2 separate regions of the Homo sapiens genome follow, and region 2 is linked to region 1. Evidence: fine-mapped expression QTL. Tissue or cell type: whole blood. Region 1 holds a variant in brackets; the other region holds the start of a gene. All regions are shown on one strand. Distances are between the middles of the regions.

Evidence for each region. PIP is the estimated chance that this variant, and not a neighbour inherited with it, causes the effect.
Region 2: TMTC1 starts here. The variant in region 1 is fine-mapped to the expression of TMTC1 in whole blood (INTERVAL, PIP 0.95).

What each region holds. Positions count from the first base shown.
Region 1 is chr12:29,272,836-29,281,038 of GRCh38, reverse strand. All of the region lies in intron 2 of FAR2 (fatty acyl-CoA reductase 2), which reads right to left. It overlaps FAR2-AS1 (FAR2 antisense RNA 1), which reads left to right. Exons shown (of 7, transcript NR_103860.1): 7 at 1-624. Among named protein-coding and RNA genes, the nearest start is that of FAR2-AS1, 41 kb to the left of the region's middle. The variant A/G (reference allele first, on the strand shown) is at 4,960.
Region 2 is chr12:29,779,006-29,787,159 of GRCh38, reverse strand. It overlaps TMTC1 (transmembrane O-mannosyltransferase targeting cadherins 1), which reads left to right and starts at 3,218. Exons shown (of 18, transcript NM_001193451.2): 1 at 3,218-3,710. The coding sequence starts at 3,409.

The sequences.
Region 1 (8,203 bases):
CTGGGGTAGGAATGAGTGTCTTCTATGTGTGGGAAAGAGAGGAAAGCAGATATTTGGCGACCTAAAAAGAAGGCCATGGCAGAACCTCATTAGTTGTTCAACAATCCTATTTTCCTTTTCTCCTGGACACACAGCTATGCATTTTCCAGCCATCCTTGTGGTTAGATGCCCAGTGACAGTTCTGAGAATGGAATATGGACAGATGTGATAGGCACTTCTGGGCCTGGGCCACAAAAACCTTCCACATGATGTCCAGTGCCTCTTTTACCCCACTGACAGTTTTTTATTGTCATCCAGAGAGACCTTGGATGGTTTAGAAGCCATGTGTAGAAGATGGCAACCTTCCCTTAGCATGGATCCTTGAATGACTGTGGAGTGCAATGCCTTCTACCAATTACACCTACTGTGTTTGAGAATCAAATTTCATTTGTATTAAGCTACTGATTTGGGGGGTTTATCTCCTTCAGCACCCACATTAGTACAACTCATGCAGAATGGAGAGTTAATGTGAACACATATGGCACAGACTGGTGAAACCTAGGACTTTAAGATGATAGATGAATTTCTGATTATACTTTCCTTTCCCGCAAAAAGTTTTTTTCAAATTAAATGTTGTAATATAAATGTGAATTCTTAAATATCTTTCTAATGAAATGATGACTAACTATAGAAAAGAGAATGCAGGAATATATACATCCTTGATAAGAGTGTGAAACTGTTACAGGCAATCTAGAGGGTCTTGCCTAGGGATAACGAACAAAATAACATACCTGGGTAAAAGAAATGAGAGGTTACTGATAAAAAACTAACATTTAGCCGGGAGTAGTGGCTCATGCCTGTAATCCCAATACTTTGGGAGGCCGAGGCAGGCAGATCGCCTGAGGTCAGGAGTTTGAGACAAGCCTGGCCAACATGGTGAAACCCCATCTCTATCAGAAATACAAAAATTAGCTAGGCATGGTGGCGGGTGCCTGTAATCCCAGCTACTTGGGAGGCTGAGGCAGGAGAATCACTTGAACCCGGGTGGTGGAGGTTGCAGTGAGCAGAGATTGTGCCACTCCACTCCAGCCTGGGTGACAGAGCTAGACTTCATCTCAAAAAAAAAAAAAATTATATTGCACAATATAAAACATTATTTTATACTTAGGATCACATTTGATCTTTGCAAATCCATATGAAATAGCTATTATTATCAGATACAGTTTATGAATAATAAAAACAAGACTCATATGGGTTAGGTAACTAGGCCATGGTCTCTCTACCAAGCTCTATCTCTCTGATTGAGGAGAGAGTATCTAGAGCATCAGTGTTCTTTTTACTGCCTTATGCTACCTCCCAGTACAGGTATAACAACTAAACCTACAAGTAACCTGCAATTGAGGGTTTAGACTTTTAGCATCTTTAACCATCCAAAACATAGCTGTGGGACCAAAAAGCAAAAAACAGTTTACAAAAGCCCATATTTATTGCACCAAGAAAAAGCCATGTCTGTGAAATATTGCTTAGAATTTGTGTACTAAACTCAGCATAATGAATTAACAAACTCAGTGACCTCATTTTCTCCTAGATTACAATAAATGGAAGACTTAAAATGATGAGAAAAATAAACACAGAAAACCTCAATTAACAGGGTAGAGGATGACCTATTGAAAGATTGGGCATTCATGTGTGGGAGGTAAAGGCAAGTCCTGTGAGTGGTAGGCAGTCCGAGGCAAGTGTTCTCTCTTTTTGTTGTTTGATTCTAAATTTATGACAACTGAAGAAAGGGCCTTGGCCTGGTCTGGATCAACTTGGTATGGAGCCCATGAGAAATGAAAGATGATTCATAAACATACCTAATTCATCCCAGGCAACAGCAGAAATGACCATGAAAAATGAGCCATCTGAGAATTCTCAACGATTCTTGGAGAATGTCATTAATTACATTTTTATTACAGGGCAGGGATGCCCAAGCTGACATATGGGTTACAAAGGCAAAGTAGAATTTCCCTCTATGGGTTTTGTTAATGTAAAATATAAATTAATAAGCTTTTTGCTTTTACTAATATGAAACATACCCATCAATTAGTTGTCTTCAATTCAGAAAGAACTAAACTAGAGTTCGATAGTATCTTAAATCCAAAAAATAAAAATAAAAACCCAACCAGCAGCCATTTGCTGAATTCCTGAGTGCTTAGGAGTCTCCATTTCTAGTCTAGCAAATGTCTTCCAGTTGCAATTTTAAACATTTTTCCCAGATCTTTCAAGAAACCTGTAATAGTATCAAGTCCAGCACACAAAGCTAGCTTTCTGTAAGCAATCAGTCTCATCTACCCACCTTTACTTTATACAGCCTCCTAAATTCAACCTTAGAATAAAAAGTACTTTTTTGTTGTTAAAAGTCTGTTCTCTAGCCAGGTGTGGTGGCTCATGCCTGTAGTCCCAGCACTTTGGGAGGCTGAGACCAGAAGATTGCTTGAAACCAGGAGTTTGAGATCAGCCTGTACAATGTAGTGAGACCACCATGTCTTAAAAAAAAAAAAATTAAAAACAATAGCTGGGCATGGTGTCACATATTTGTGGTCCCAGCTACTTGGGAGGCTGAGGTGGGTGGATCACGTGAGCCCGGGAGGTTGAGGCTGCAGTGAACAATGATCATGCAGTGCCCTCCAGCCTTAGTGATAAGAGTGAGACCATGTCTCAGAAATTTAAAAAAAGTCTATCCTCTGCCTCTAAGGGACTTTGTTGTTATAAAACTACTGAAAATTTGTATAAATATATCTTATTAAATATAAACATATTTTATTAAAACTATTGAAAATATATATAAACCAGGTGTGGTGGCTCACACTTGTAATCCTAGCACTTTGGGAGACTGAGGCAGGAGGACTGTTTGAGGCCACAAGTTCAAGACCAGCCTAAGCAACATAGTGAGATCCCATCTGTACAAAAATTTGAAAATTAGCCAGCTTTGGCAGTGTGTGCCTGTATTCCCAGCAACTCAGGAGGTTGAGGCAAGAGAATCCTTTGAACCCAGGAGTTTAAGGTTACAGTGAGCTGATTGTGAACTGTACTCCAACCTGGGCAACAGAGTGAGACCCTATCTCAAAAAAAAAAAAAAAAAAAAGAAAGAAAATATGTACAAATGAATGTTTTAAATTGAAACAATTACTATAGCACCAAAATGCTCATTCGATGAGATGGAAATTTCTTCTTAAATGTCTATTTCTCATTTTGCAGCAAAGGCATGATTATACTTCTATAAATTTTTGCCTTACATAGTCAGATAGAAGCATGCAAAGTAGGCAGAGCCTAGGCATCTACCTGAAAGAAATGCCCTCCTGCATTTTCTTGAACATATTAACTCTTCCTGAGCTCCAGTGGCACTATCTCTGGAGTCCTTTTCCGGCAGATAATTTTAAAGCAGGCGTCACTTGTTATTTTCTCTCTCAAATTGCCGTGTTCTTTGTCTTCACAGTACTTTTGAAAATACTTAAATATACATGTGTTTCTTATGAAACTCGTTTGCCTCACTGGACTTTAAGATCTGTGAGGCCAATTCCATGCCTGTTTTATTTTCTACTTTATTGCCCCTGTTCCCCAGGCACAAAGCAATAAGTGCCTGACATACATTTGGCTCTCAATAAATACTTGTCATATTTGTGTGCTTGTTCAACTTTTCTCACTCTTTTTGTGTGTAGGTGTGTACTTTCTTGTTATTTCTGGACACTTACGGATTTCCTTATTTTGCCTCAAGGTCAGCTATGCATTAAAACTATTTTATGGCCAGGCGTGATGGCTCATGCCTGTAATCCCAGCACTTTGGGAGGCTGAGGTGGGTGGATCACGAGGTCAGGAGTTCAAGACCAGCCTGGCCACGATGGTGAAACCCCGTCTCTACTAAAACTACAAAAATTAGCCAGGCGCGGTGGCAGATGCCTGTAATCCCAGCTACTCGGGAGGCTGAGGCAGGAGAATCGCTTGAACCCAGGTGGCAGAGGTTGCAGTGAGCTGAGATAGAGCCACTGCACTCTAGCAGCTGGGTGACAGAGTGAGACTCCGTCTCAAAATAAATAAATATTTTATAAAAAACGTATTTTATCTATTTTTTTTTTTGAGACAGAGTTTCACTCTGTTGCCCAGGCTGGAGTGCAGTGGCACATACACACACATATATATATATAATCTAGAGATTTTACATATATATATATATAAAATCTAGAGGTTTCTTTCACCTTTCAAACATAGCTCATCCCCATAACTTAAAAAATATAAAAAAATACAATTTTATCTGTCTTGTCTTTATTTTGAATTTTCAATTTCAAAGGGAATACAAGCAATAATATCTTGAATCTCATAGATGGCCAGTAACTACTTCTTGCATAATTCCTTATTTGCACAGAGCTTTATCCACAGCCAATCAGCGATAGCATTCTTATATTCTGAAGCATACACAATTTTGTAGCAAAAACTTTTCAGTTTTGGGATACGCAGCAATAAAATCAAGCACATATTTTTTTCCATGGAAAATCTCTTTACAGGTATCAGATTCCATATAGTGACAAGAAAGTAGATATTTGCATAGCTAATGGCTTGTGCATTAATAATCAGGTGATAGAATCTGTTCTTGTTACCCACAAAATGGCCATGTAGACATGGTTTGTGATCTACCGTAGATGTGTTTTTCAACTATATTATACACATCAGATTCCCTTCCTCCCACAACTCTTTGAGGGAAAAATTTATGGGAAAAAAAACACTTCTTTTTTTGGCATAACTTAGTATACAGCCTAACTTAGTAAAAAGTGAGGCCCTAGGAAATAGTGGTAAAAGCCATACCTTAAATCCAGAAAGGCTTGAGGGCAAGAGAGAAAGACGCAGAGACTCCCTGGGTAAGCAAGGTATTATTACAGCATTTTACAGATAAAGAAACCAAGGCTCAGCAAAGTATATATCTAGTCCACTATCACACAACTCACA[A/G]TTGGTCGTATGGAGATTCACACCCAGGTCTGTCTGCCTCTGAAGCCCAGGCTGTTAAGTACCATCTGATCACAACAGATAGTTCTCAGGTGATCTTGAATGCTGCTGATATTGGGACCACACTTTGAGAACCACTGTTCATAAAAGTCAACAGCTGACAGTAAATAGCCCAATAGTGAAAACAGGTGCTGAGATTTGCAAGGCAGTTTCACAGATAAGTTACATAGAGTATAATCACGATTTCCAGAACAAAAGCAATGTTGCCGTGTTATAAAAAACACTGCATTGAAAGAAGCAGTAGGTAAAGATTGGGTTGACCACAAGACTCTCTGCCACAATATTTATCTAGAAATGCATAGTTGGCAACAAAGCTCCCAGACTAACACGAAACGTCTACTATGTGAGGAAAACAAAGTCCAGAGGTGCGACCAAGATGGCCTACTAGAAGCAGGGGTGATTGGAGGCTCCCATCGAAAAACAAACATAACACTTTTACACTGTTGGTGGGACTGTAAACTAGTTCAACCATTGTGGAAGTCAGTGTGGCGATTCCTCAGGGATCTAGAACTAGAAATACCATTTGACCCAGCCATCCCATTACTGGGTATATACCTGTCAGGCCTCTGACCCCAAGCTAGGCCATCATATCCCCAGTGACCTGCACGTACACATCCAGATGGCCGGTTCCTGCCTTAACTGATGACATTCCACCACAAAAGAAGTGAAAATGGCCTGTTCCTGCCTTAACTGATGACATCGTCTTGTGAAATTCCTTCTCCTGGCTCATCCTGGCTCAAAAGCTCCCCCATTGAGTACCTTGTGACCCCCACTCCTGCCTGCCAGAGAACAACCCACCTTTTTCCTTTACCTACCCAAATCCTATAAAACGGCCCCACCCCTGTCTCCCTTCGCTGACTCTCTTTTCGGACTCAGCCCGCCTGCACCCAGATGATTAAAAGCTTTATTGCTCACACAAAGCCTGTTTGGTGGTCTCTTCACATGGACGCGCATGAAATTTGGTGCCAACCTGAGGTCATAGGTGGATCTTTCTCATGGAGCAAAGAGCAGGAGGACGGGATTGATCTCCCAGGGAGGTCCCCCGATCCGAGTCACGGCACCAAATTTCATGCGCGTCCATTTGAGGAGACCACCAAACAGGCTTTGTGTGAGCAACAAGGCTGTTTATTTCACCTGGGTGCAGGCGGGCTGAGTCCGAAAAGAGAGTCAGCGAAGGGAGATAGGGGTGGGGGCCGTTTTATAGGATTTGGGTAGGTAAAGGAAAAAGGGGGATTGTTCTCTGGCGGGCAGGAGTGGGGGTCACAAGGTACTCAGTGGCGGAGATTTTGAGCCAGAATGAGCCAGGAGAAGGAATTTCACAAGACAATGTCATCAGTTAAGGCAGGAACAGGCCATTTTCACATCTTTTGTGGTGGAATGTCATCAGTTAAGGCAGGAACCGGCCAGCTGGATGTGTACGTGCAGGTCACAGGGGATATGATGGCTTAGCTTGGGCTCAGAGGCCTGACAATACCCAAAGGATTATAAGTCATGCTGCTATAAAGACACATGCACATGTATGTTTATTGCGGCACTATTCACAATAGCAAAGACTTGGAACCAACCCAAATGTCCAATAATGATAGACTGGATTAAGAAAATGTGGCACATATACATCATGGAATACTAGGCAGCCATAAAAAATGATGAGTTCATGTCCTTTGTAGGGACACGGATGAAGCTGGAAACCATCATTCTCAGCAAACTATCACAAGGACAAAAAACCAAACACCACATGTTCTCACTCAGAGGTGGGAACTGAACAATGAGAACACATGGACACAGGAAGGGGAACATCACATACCGGGGCCTGTTGTGGGGTGGGGGGAGGGGGGAGGGATAGCATTAGGAGATATACCTAATGTTAAATGACGAGTTAATGGGTGCAGCACACCAACATGGCACACGTATACATATGTAACAAACCTGCACACACGTACCCTAAAACTTAAAGTATAATTAAAAAAAAGAAAAAGAAAAACAAACACAATAACCGTGTGAATCCTTCGCCAGCAACAGAGTTATCCAGGTTCTCTCATCAAAATTGACTAGAAGGCTGGTGTGACCCACCAAGAGAAGGAAGAGCAGTGTGGTGCGGTGGCCCACCTGAGAGCCACACGGCGAAGGGGAGTCCCCTCTCCCCAGCCAAGGGAGGTGGTGAGTGAGCATGCTACCCGGCCCGGGGAACTGCTTTTTCCATGGAACAGTGCAACCTATGGGTCAGAAGAGCCCACTCCGGAACCCAGGCCACCAGGGCCTACCATCCCAACCTGAGAAAGTGCAGATTCTTACAGCCTCTCAGCTAAAATCTGCTTAAGCCTACTGAACTCCTGGGGGCAGAGGGGCGACGAGCCCTGGCTGCCATCACCTGCTGTCTAAGCCATTTGAGCTCCTTGGGGGAGGGGCAGCAGCCAGCACTGGGACTGGCAACTGCCTAACAGGCTAAGCTCCCTGGGCAGGGGAAGGGTGGCACCCATTTCTATAGCTCCAGGCTGTGCTTTTCCCCTGCTAGTGCCAGGAAGGCTGGATGGCTTGGTCCCAAGACTTGTCCCCACAGCCCTACACACCGTGGCAGCCACACACACACTGTGGCAGTCTGCGGCCAGAGTGCCTCTTCAGGCCTAACCCCCACCCATCCTTCCTCGTTGGTGGGGGAGGGGCTTCCCTGCAGGATCTCCAATAACTCTAGCCAGAGGCTTAGGAACAGAATTCTGATCTCCCTGGTCCTGAGCCCCTAAGGGGAGAGGTGGCTGCAGTCTCTGTGGACCAGCAGACTTAGCCTCTCCTCCTGGTAGTTCTGAGGAATCAGGGCAACCCAGACAAGTGGGTTTCCCCCCAGTGAAACACACCCTCTCCACCAAGGGACAAAGTGGTTCGTTAAACGGTCCTACTCCCAATGCCACAACAGGGTGAGACCTTCCTACAGGGGTTGTCAGACACTCTATACAGGAGCAATCCTACTGGCATCAGGCTGGTGCCCCTCGAGGTCAGAGGTCCCAGGAGAAGGAGCAGGGACCCATCTTTGCTGCTCTCCAGCCTCTTTGAGTGACATCTCCAGGCACAGCAGAAAATCAGATGAATAAGGCCTGAAGCGAATGCCCAGCAAACTGCAGCAGCCCTGCAGAAGAGGAACCTGACCATTGAAAGAAAAACAAGCAGAAAGCGACAACAACATCAAGAACAACAA
Region 2 (8,154 bases), 510 kb before region 1:
TGATCACTCTCTTGCCAAACTGACTTAGTAGTGTTCTTTGCTAAAACTGGATTTTACAAGGAAGTACAATGATGGTGCTAGGAAGTTTCAGAAGACTAACTAAAGTTTGGTCAAGCAAAGAATTGTTGTTAGCAGTAATTTGAAATTGGTTTTATTACAATAGCTTGCCCTTGATTTATTTTTAGTTGTGTCCTAATCTCTTTCAGAAATATGGTCCATCTTAATTTGCATGAGTGACTTAATCTATATGAGCCTCAGAGAGGTACTTCTACAATAATTCATGTTTTATTATAAATTGCTTTTGAGTGGACACAAGGCGTTTCAGGAGGTAGTATTGCGCTAATTATCAATCCTTTAAAAATAATTAGAGGCTAAGTAACAAGAATTAAATCTAACTTCCTTTTGGGCCCCTTTATTAGTCAAGATGGATGTTTTCCACTTTAAGAGAGAAGCAAATGGCTTGATGGGCTGGCATATCAATGTAAACCTCTCTCTGACATCAGTACTTCTATACTTTTCCTACCACACAGAGCAGTATTGAATCAGGAGGTGATGAGGCTGCAAAGAAACTAATTATTATTATTATTATTATTATTATTATTATTATTTTTAGAGATAGAGTCTCACACGGTCCCCAGGCTGGAGTGCAGTGGCGTGATCTTGGCTCACTGCAACCTCCACCTCCCAGGTTCAAGCCATTCTCCTGCCTTGGCCTCCCAAGTAGCTGGGACTACAGGCGCGTGCCACCACGCCTAGGTTATTTTTGTATTTTTAGTAGAGACAGGGTTTCACCATGTTGACCAGGATGGTCTCGATCTCCTGACCTGATCTGCCCACCTAGGCCTCCCAAAGTGCTGGGATTACAGGGGTGGGCCACCATGCCAGGCCCGAAGGAACTAATTTTTAAAAATATTCACTGATCAGTTGTCCTTGAGAAGACTTGAAGCATTTCACTATTTTAAGTCAATCTCAAATTTGTCATCTGAGCAAAATAGAATAAAGATGCCACTGAACCTAGAGGAAAGATTAGGTAACCAGGAATCCTACTTTCAGGTTTCCTTTATCTCTTCTTTTTATGATCTCTTTGGAGTCTCAGTCCCAAGTCCTGCACTACTCTCCATGGTCATGGAGCACTCTGATACTGTTTCCATCTAAAAAAGAAAACAACTCCGAGAAGAAGGGGGTAGCCAGAGCTCTTCCTTGGAAAAGGATGACTTAAGGATAATTTGAGGAAGGAAAAAAGACTTTCTTTCTATAAAAATCTACTATTAGAGGCCACTCTTTTCTTTTCTTTTTTGAGGCAGGGTCTCACTCTGTAGCCCAGGCCAGTCTTGAACTCCTGGCCTCAAGCAACGCTCCTGCCTTGGCCTCCCAAAGTGCTGGGATTGCGGGTGTGAGCCATTGCACCTGGCCTAGAGTCACTCTTTTGGGTTAAGACGTTCTCTCTAGAAAGCCTCCGTTAATTATAGGTAAGGATTGATACATTGACCTATTACCTCAACTATGATTTCAGCAAAGATAATTTCACTATCCCAATCAGCTGTTAACTTAGAAAGCTAGACTTTTATGGTGTTAACCACACACACATACAGACGCACACACACGAGCAGCTTTGGGTCTTCCAATCCTATACTTAGCACATTGTAGCACAAAGAATCTCCTTAATATATTTTTATTAAGTTAATAGGTGAATAGGAAAGGCTGTAGTGTGTTATACGGGGAAATAGACTCAGGTGTGTCTAGATATTAAAGTCGGTATATTAAGGTTACCAAGCGTGAAAGATTTTGATGGAAGAATGAAAACATCCATGTCCAGGACTTCCAGTTTCATTTCTCAGTCACTAATTTCAAGTCACCAAATAAACAAAGTGAAAATGGGTGAAACGTACTTTGAGTTACAATAAGTTTATCTTAATTCATTGACTTTTCAACTGCTCAGATGTCTTAAAATTTTTTAAAAAGTAAGTTGTTATAGTAAAGAGCCACACAAATACTCATAGCAGAGGAACAATTTCTGGATTATGTCGGTGAGCTTTTTAAGGGTTTGGGGAGGATGAGAATAAAAGGGTGACTTTTTATTTTCAGTTTTTCTATCTGGATGTGTCAAATTCCTGATAACTTCTAACACTCAGCAATGGAAATTTAGAAGGTGCCTGAAAGAACAAATAGAATTTTCAGACCTGGAGAAATTCTAGTAATCATCACTCTGGGACATATTATTAAAATTAGTATTTTAAAAAAGAAAACAATCTTTCAGAAAGACAGGAAGTTTAGGAGCCAAAGCCAGAGGCCCTAATACAAATCGCCCCCACCTCCCCATCCCCCCATCCCCACCTTCTTCCCCGCCCTGTTCAAACACGCCCACAGCCCAGGAAATAATGAGACCCAAGTGATCCAGCTAGATAGAAAAAGTAGTTTGCTTGGCATCTCCCAAATTATCTTGAGCAAACAATAAAATAAGAAATGTTTCAGAAGACAATTCGGCTCCCAGGCCCAAACCAAAACTCGAACCTGGTACTTTTTGTAAGTGCGGGCCAAGAAAGGGGCTGTAAAGTTAAAGAGCCGGTGGCGCCTCTGAACACACCCGGGCAGGGCGAGCAGGATGTCCTTGTCCAGGGAGACCCCTTCTCCTGGCTTTGAGGAAGGTGCTCCCTATCCCCGCGGGTTCCTCCGCCAAGCGGGACGCCGCGCCGGGCGGGTGAGAGAAAGCCCGGGCAGGAGAGCACAGAGCCGGCGACTGGACGCGAGCGCGGGGCGGGTGGAGAGCGTCTCTCCGGGCGCCGCTGCTGTTGTCCCGGGTGCTGAAAAGCCGGGAACTTCCCGGGAAGCAGCGGCACTTTTCTCCCTGGAAGGTGGGTGTGGGGGTTCCAGACTGCGCACCTGCTAAACCCTCCTGGGTCCCCCGGGAGGGGTCCGCCAGATGTGCCCCTTCCCAGCCCCATTCGGGGGAGAAGGATGGGGGCGGGGGCGTGGGGGTGAGCACAGCCGGACACCGCAAGTGGGAACCTGGGGTGTCCTTCCCCGCAGCTCCCGGGCAGCCGCGCGCCGCGAACCCCGGTCCACCTGCAAGCAAGGCGGGCCGGGGGCAGAGGGCGCCGGGCTGTGCGGGGGAACCGGCCCGCGTCCCGGGATTGGGGGGCGGTGGAAGAGAGAGCGAGCGGGCATGCGCAGTGGGGCGGAGGAGGTGGCGATGGCCGGGGGAGGCGGGGGGACTGCTGTTTATTTGCAGCTGGGCCAACTCCGCGGCGCAGGCGGCGGCGGAGCGCGGGGAGCTCGCGGCGGGTCCAGCTGCCGCAGCACCATGCCCGAGCCCCCCTCCGGGCAGACGCCGCGCGCCGCCGGGGCCCCGGTAGGGGAGGATGCCAGACGCCCGGGAGAGGCCAGGGCAGCAGCGGCGGCGGCGGCGCGATGGTGGTGACCACCTCTGCCCGAGGCGGCGGCGGGGACCGCACACCCTCCCGGCGGCGGGGCTGCGGGCTAGCGCCGGCCGGGGCCGCGGCGCTGCTGGCCGGGGCAAGCTGCCTGTGCTACGGCCGCTCCCTGCAGGGCGAGTTCGTGCACGACGACGTGTGGGCGATCGTGAACAACCCCGACGTGCGGCCCGGCGCCCCGCTCCGCTGGGGCATCTTCACCAACGACTTCTGGGGCAAGGGCATGGCCGAGAACACCAGCCACAAGTCCTACCGGCCGCTCTGCGTCCTCACCTTCAAGTGAGTCCCTCACCTCGCGCTAGCCGCCGCTGCCTCCTCTACCCTCCGCCCGTCCCTCGGACCGGGAGAAGTTGCGGGACTGACTTGGGGGCATTTCATTTTTGCCGCCCTTTCCCTCCACGCCTCCCTCCTCTCCAGGATGTGCATGGCACTTTGCTCCGGGATCCACTGCCCGGCTAATCTGGGCTCTCGGGGCGGTTCGGGAGGCGCCGGCTGGGGAGTTGGGATCGAGTTTCTCAACTGTCTGCCCTCTCAGCGGGCTTCTCTCTCGAGGCAGGGCTGGGAGCGGGCTGGTGAAACCGCCTCCGCACCCCTTCGCCTGCCGGATCGTGACCAAGTGGGACTAGCGCGGACCCAGAGGGTTCCGGAGGGGTGGCGGTGGTGGCGATGCTTCCAAGTAGAGAATTTCTCGGAGGCTGTTGGGCAGCTTTGCAGATGAGAAGTGTATCAGCCCCTTAAGGGTTTCGTTCAGATGAGACGAGGCGGGAGCCTTGAGCTGACAGGGCTGCGTGGGTTCAGGAGAGGGAGCAGAAAACTCTCCCGAGCCCCCCAGCCCCCGCCTTGCACCCTTGGCTGCTCCCAGAGGCTCTCCAATCTGCCAGACTTCTCTGGATCTAGACTTTAGAAGGTGCAGAGAGAGGTAACGCAGAGCCTAGGCTTCTCCAGGGACCCTGGGGCCCCAGCCGAAATAGTTTTTCTTTTACAACCTCGGAGTCATGATTCAGCGTTTCTGGTGTGAATAAGCGTAAAGGGAACCGAGAATATGCCAGGTTTTTGAGGGGTGGAGTATTTTCTTTAATTTGAAAAGAAGCCTAGCTTCTGAGGAAAGAAGAGAAGTGCTCATTTAAGGGAAATGCTATCTTACACAATCAGGAGCTTGACTCAACCCTTTATAATGTGGCTCAGCATTGAAGTTCATTTTAACGCGCCGGTCAAAACTGTTGAAATAATATTGGTGCGCTATTATCGGCGTTTTAAGCCTTTTTGCAACGGGTGTAATAGGAACCCGTGTTTATGGTAATGATTATTTGAGACTGGGTTGGCAGCTTGAAAAGCCTGCTCTGGATGAGAGGCTGAGGCCTCTTGACAGGTGTCTCTGATGACTCAGAAAAGGAAACCATAGCAATCGGCAACAATTCATGGGCTTTTGACTTACGTCTTCCACTGAAAGTTTAATGTTTTTAAGGAGAGTGAGAAAATTACATATTTGACTTTGAAGAGAATGTGTTATAGACATTTGTTCTCTTAGAAAGTTGTTCTCGTTTTCTACTGAAAGATAACCTTGGCTAACCTCGCTATTCAGTTTCCCAGATGTTTCTTAAAATCTCCTTGGGACAAATATAAATGTTTCACTTCTAGATTGACCTGCTTTTTCATTATTACAGTCAGGGTTGTTGGTTAATTTAGGATGTGCAAGTTCACAGCATGAGATGTGCTTGCTATCTTTGTAACAGCCATGGAGACCATCCTGGTCACAGGTCTGAGTATTTTTCAATTAAAAAGGGCAGAGTCAAATGCCTGTGCCTACTTGCTGGAGAGTAGGGAAGGGTGTTTTCACTTCTTGACTTTCTAGAAGGTTTTCTTCTTTTTTCTCTGTCTTTTCTCTTTTTTTCTTTTTTGGGATGGGATCTCACTCTGTCCTCCAGCCTGGAGTGCAGTGGCATGATTATTGCTCACTGTAGCCTGAAACTTCTGGGCATAAGCAATTCTCCTGCCTCAGCCTCCCAAGTAGCTGGAACTACTACTGGCACATGCCGTGCATCCAGATATATTTTAAAATTTTTTTTGTAGATATGGGGTCTTCCTATGTTGTCTAGGCTGGTGTTGAACTCCTGGGCTAAGCGATCTTTAAGCCTCAGCCTCCCAGTGTGCTGGACTTGTGGGCATGAGCTACTGTACCTCACCTAAAATGTTTTATTTTTCTTCATAATGGAGACAGCAGGCACATAAGGGAGGGGTGGAGGGAGTAGACAAAGAAGTAAGACCATTGATTAAGAGGAAAATTGGCTAGGAGTTGACAGAACAAGGGCAAAGGAGAGTTGGGGGATTCAGGAGGAAGAGAGCTGAGGGACTCTTGTGGTAATCATTGATTGTAACAAGCAGCTTGGTGTCTAAGAGGCATGGCTTGCTGTATATTATATGCTACTGCCTATGAAAGATACACTCTTTTTTTGAGAAGATTGAGTTGCAAATCTAGAAGAGAAACACAGCACTAATTGGAAAGAGATAACTGCCTCTTCAGAAAGAGAATGTTAAGTAGTCTTTCTGTCCTCACATGCATTGATTTAAATAAGACTGGACAGTTTTCTTTATATTCACCTGAGGTATAGCATGAAGCTGGAGGATATCAGTGATTTTAGAACCATACAACTCTACAGGATGGTACAAGGAAGGACAGAAAGCCGTATTTATTAACTATTCGCTATGAACCAAGCATTGGCCTAGATACTTCACATAGATTACGTCTTTATGATTTTTATTTTAGATAGTGAAAACACAATTGAAGGGGCCCTTTAAATATGTGCAAACCATTTTAACTGTATCTTAAATTATGCTTGTTTGAGCAAAAACTTTGAGATTTCAAACCCGTTTTAAAAACTTTTTTAATGTAATTGTGCATTCCCATGCAGTTTTAAGTAATAATAGAGAGATTCCTTCTACTCTATCCATTTCCCCCAATGGTAACATCCTGTATTATTATGGTATAATATTACAACCAGGAAATTGATATTGATGCAATCTACAGCATTTAGTCAGATTTCACCCATTTTATATGTACTTCTATTTTTTTTATTTTACTAAGTGTGTATTTAGTTTTATGCAGCTTTATCATATGTGTAGATTTCAGAGAGTACCTCCACAGTCAAGATACGGAACAATTCCATCCCAAGGATCCTCAGTACTTCTTTATTGCAATCATGGACACCTAATCTATAACAACTGCCTAATCCATAATCCCCTCACCCAAATCCATAACAACCATGAATCTGTTCTCCATTATCATTTTGCCATTTTAATACTGTTGTATAAATGGAATCACATAGTATGTAACCTGTTGAGATTGGCTTCTTGCACTCAGCATGTCTCTGGATCTTCATTCAGGCTGTTGCATGTATCCATAGTTTGTTCCTTTTTATTGCTGAGTTGTATTCCATTGTATGGATATACCACAGTTTGTATAACCATTCACCTGTTGGGGACATCTAGGTTGTTTCCAACTTTTGGCTGGGATAAAGCTGCTATAAAAATTCACTTACAGGTTTTTATGTAAACATAGATTTTTATTTCTCTGTTCTAAATGCCCAGGAGTCCAATTGCTGGGCCATATGGTGGCTGCATGTTCATATGCTTTATATGAAGCTGCCATACTGTTTTCCAGATGTTCCTAGCCGCAGTGTCTGAGTAATCCAGTTTCTGTGCATTTCTGCCAGCACTTTGTATTGTTGCTGTTTTTTACTGTAGCCATTTTGATAGGTATGTAGTGATATCACACCTATATATGTACCTCATTAATTTACCATTCCCTAATGGGTGAAGCTATTGAACATCTGATATTAAACCAAAGAGTTTGGTAAATGTGCCTTTGTGTCTTTTGTCCATTTTTAAGTGTTTTTTTTAAATGTTGAGTATTGAAGTTCTTTATATATTCTAGATACATGTACTTTGTCAAGTATGTGATTGGTAAATATTTTCTCCCACTCTGTAGCTTGTCTTTTTGTCCTCCTCACAGGACCTTTCTCAGTGCAATACTCCAAACATATTTTTTATTAAAATGTAAGTTGATTTTTGATTCATTGAATGTATCTTACGCATACTGAGAGCTAGAAATTTCCTTAAGAATAAATGTAATTTATAGATGCATAATACTTTTTGCTATAAAGGTGGTTGCTTGTATACTAATAAATAATAAAAGTGCTTGCTTAGGTAGTAAAGATACTAATTATGTATTTTTTCAAGTAAGAAATGAACTAAAATTTGAAATGAGGAAATGGGTTGCAGACCATCTACTTCTACCAGTTTTGAGGGGATGGGACAGTGGAATATGAAAGCAGCTTACCAAGATGTGGTGGCTTTGCACTATGTCACTTTAGCTAAGTTGGGACTATGTTTCTTGGAATTGCCTTTGCAAGATGATCTGGGTTAGGGCTGACCATAAGAAAAATTTCTGCAAGATTTGGAAGGTGAAAGTGAAGTGGCTAAGATCACATTCAGAATGTTGGCATAGGTTTTGTTGCTGCCAGGCCTCTTGCAGTTTGTCACAGAAATGTTGGTGAACATGCTGTTGGTTTGCAGCAGCACCCAGGCCCTCAGCTCCTCCAGTGCTCTCCAGATCTCGTCTTTCAGCTACTTGGAATCATGGTGCAGGTGTGTATGCAGCTCTGCAGGGAAGAGTGCCAGTCTTTTTGCAAGCCTCTTGCATTGTTAAAGTTGGAGCCTTAAAGGC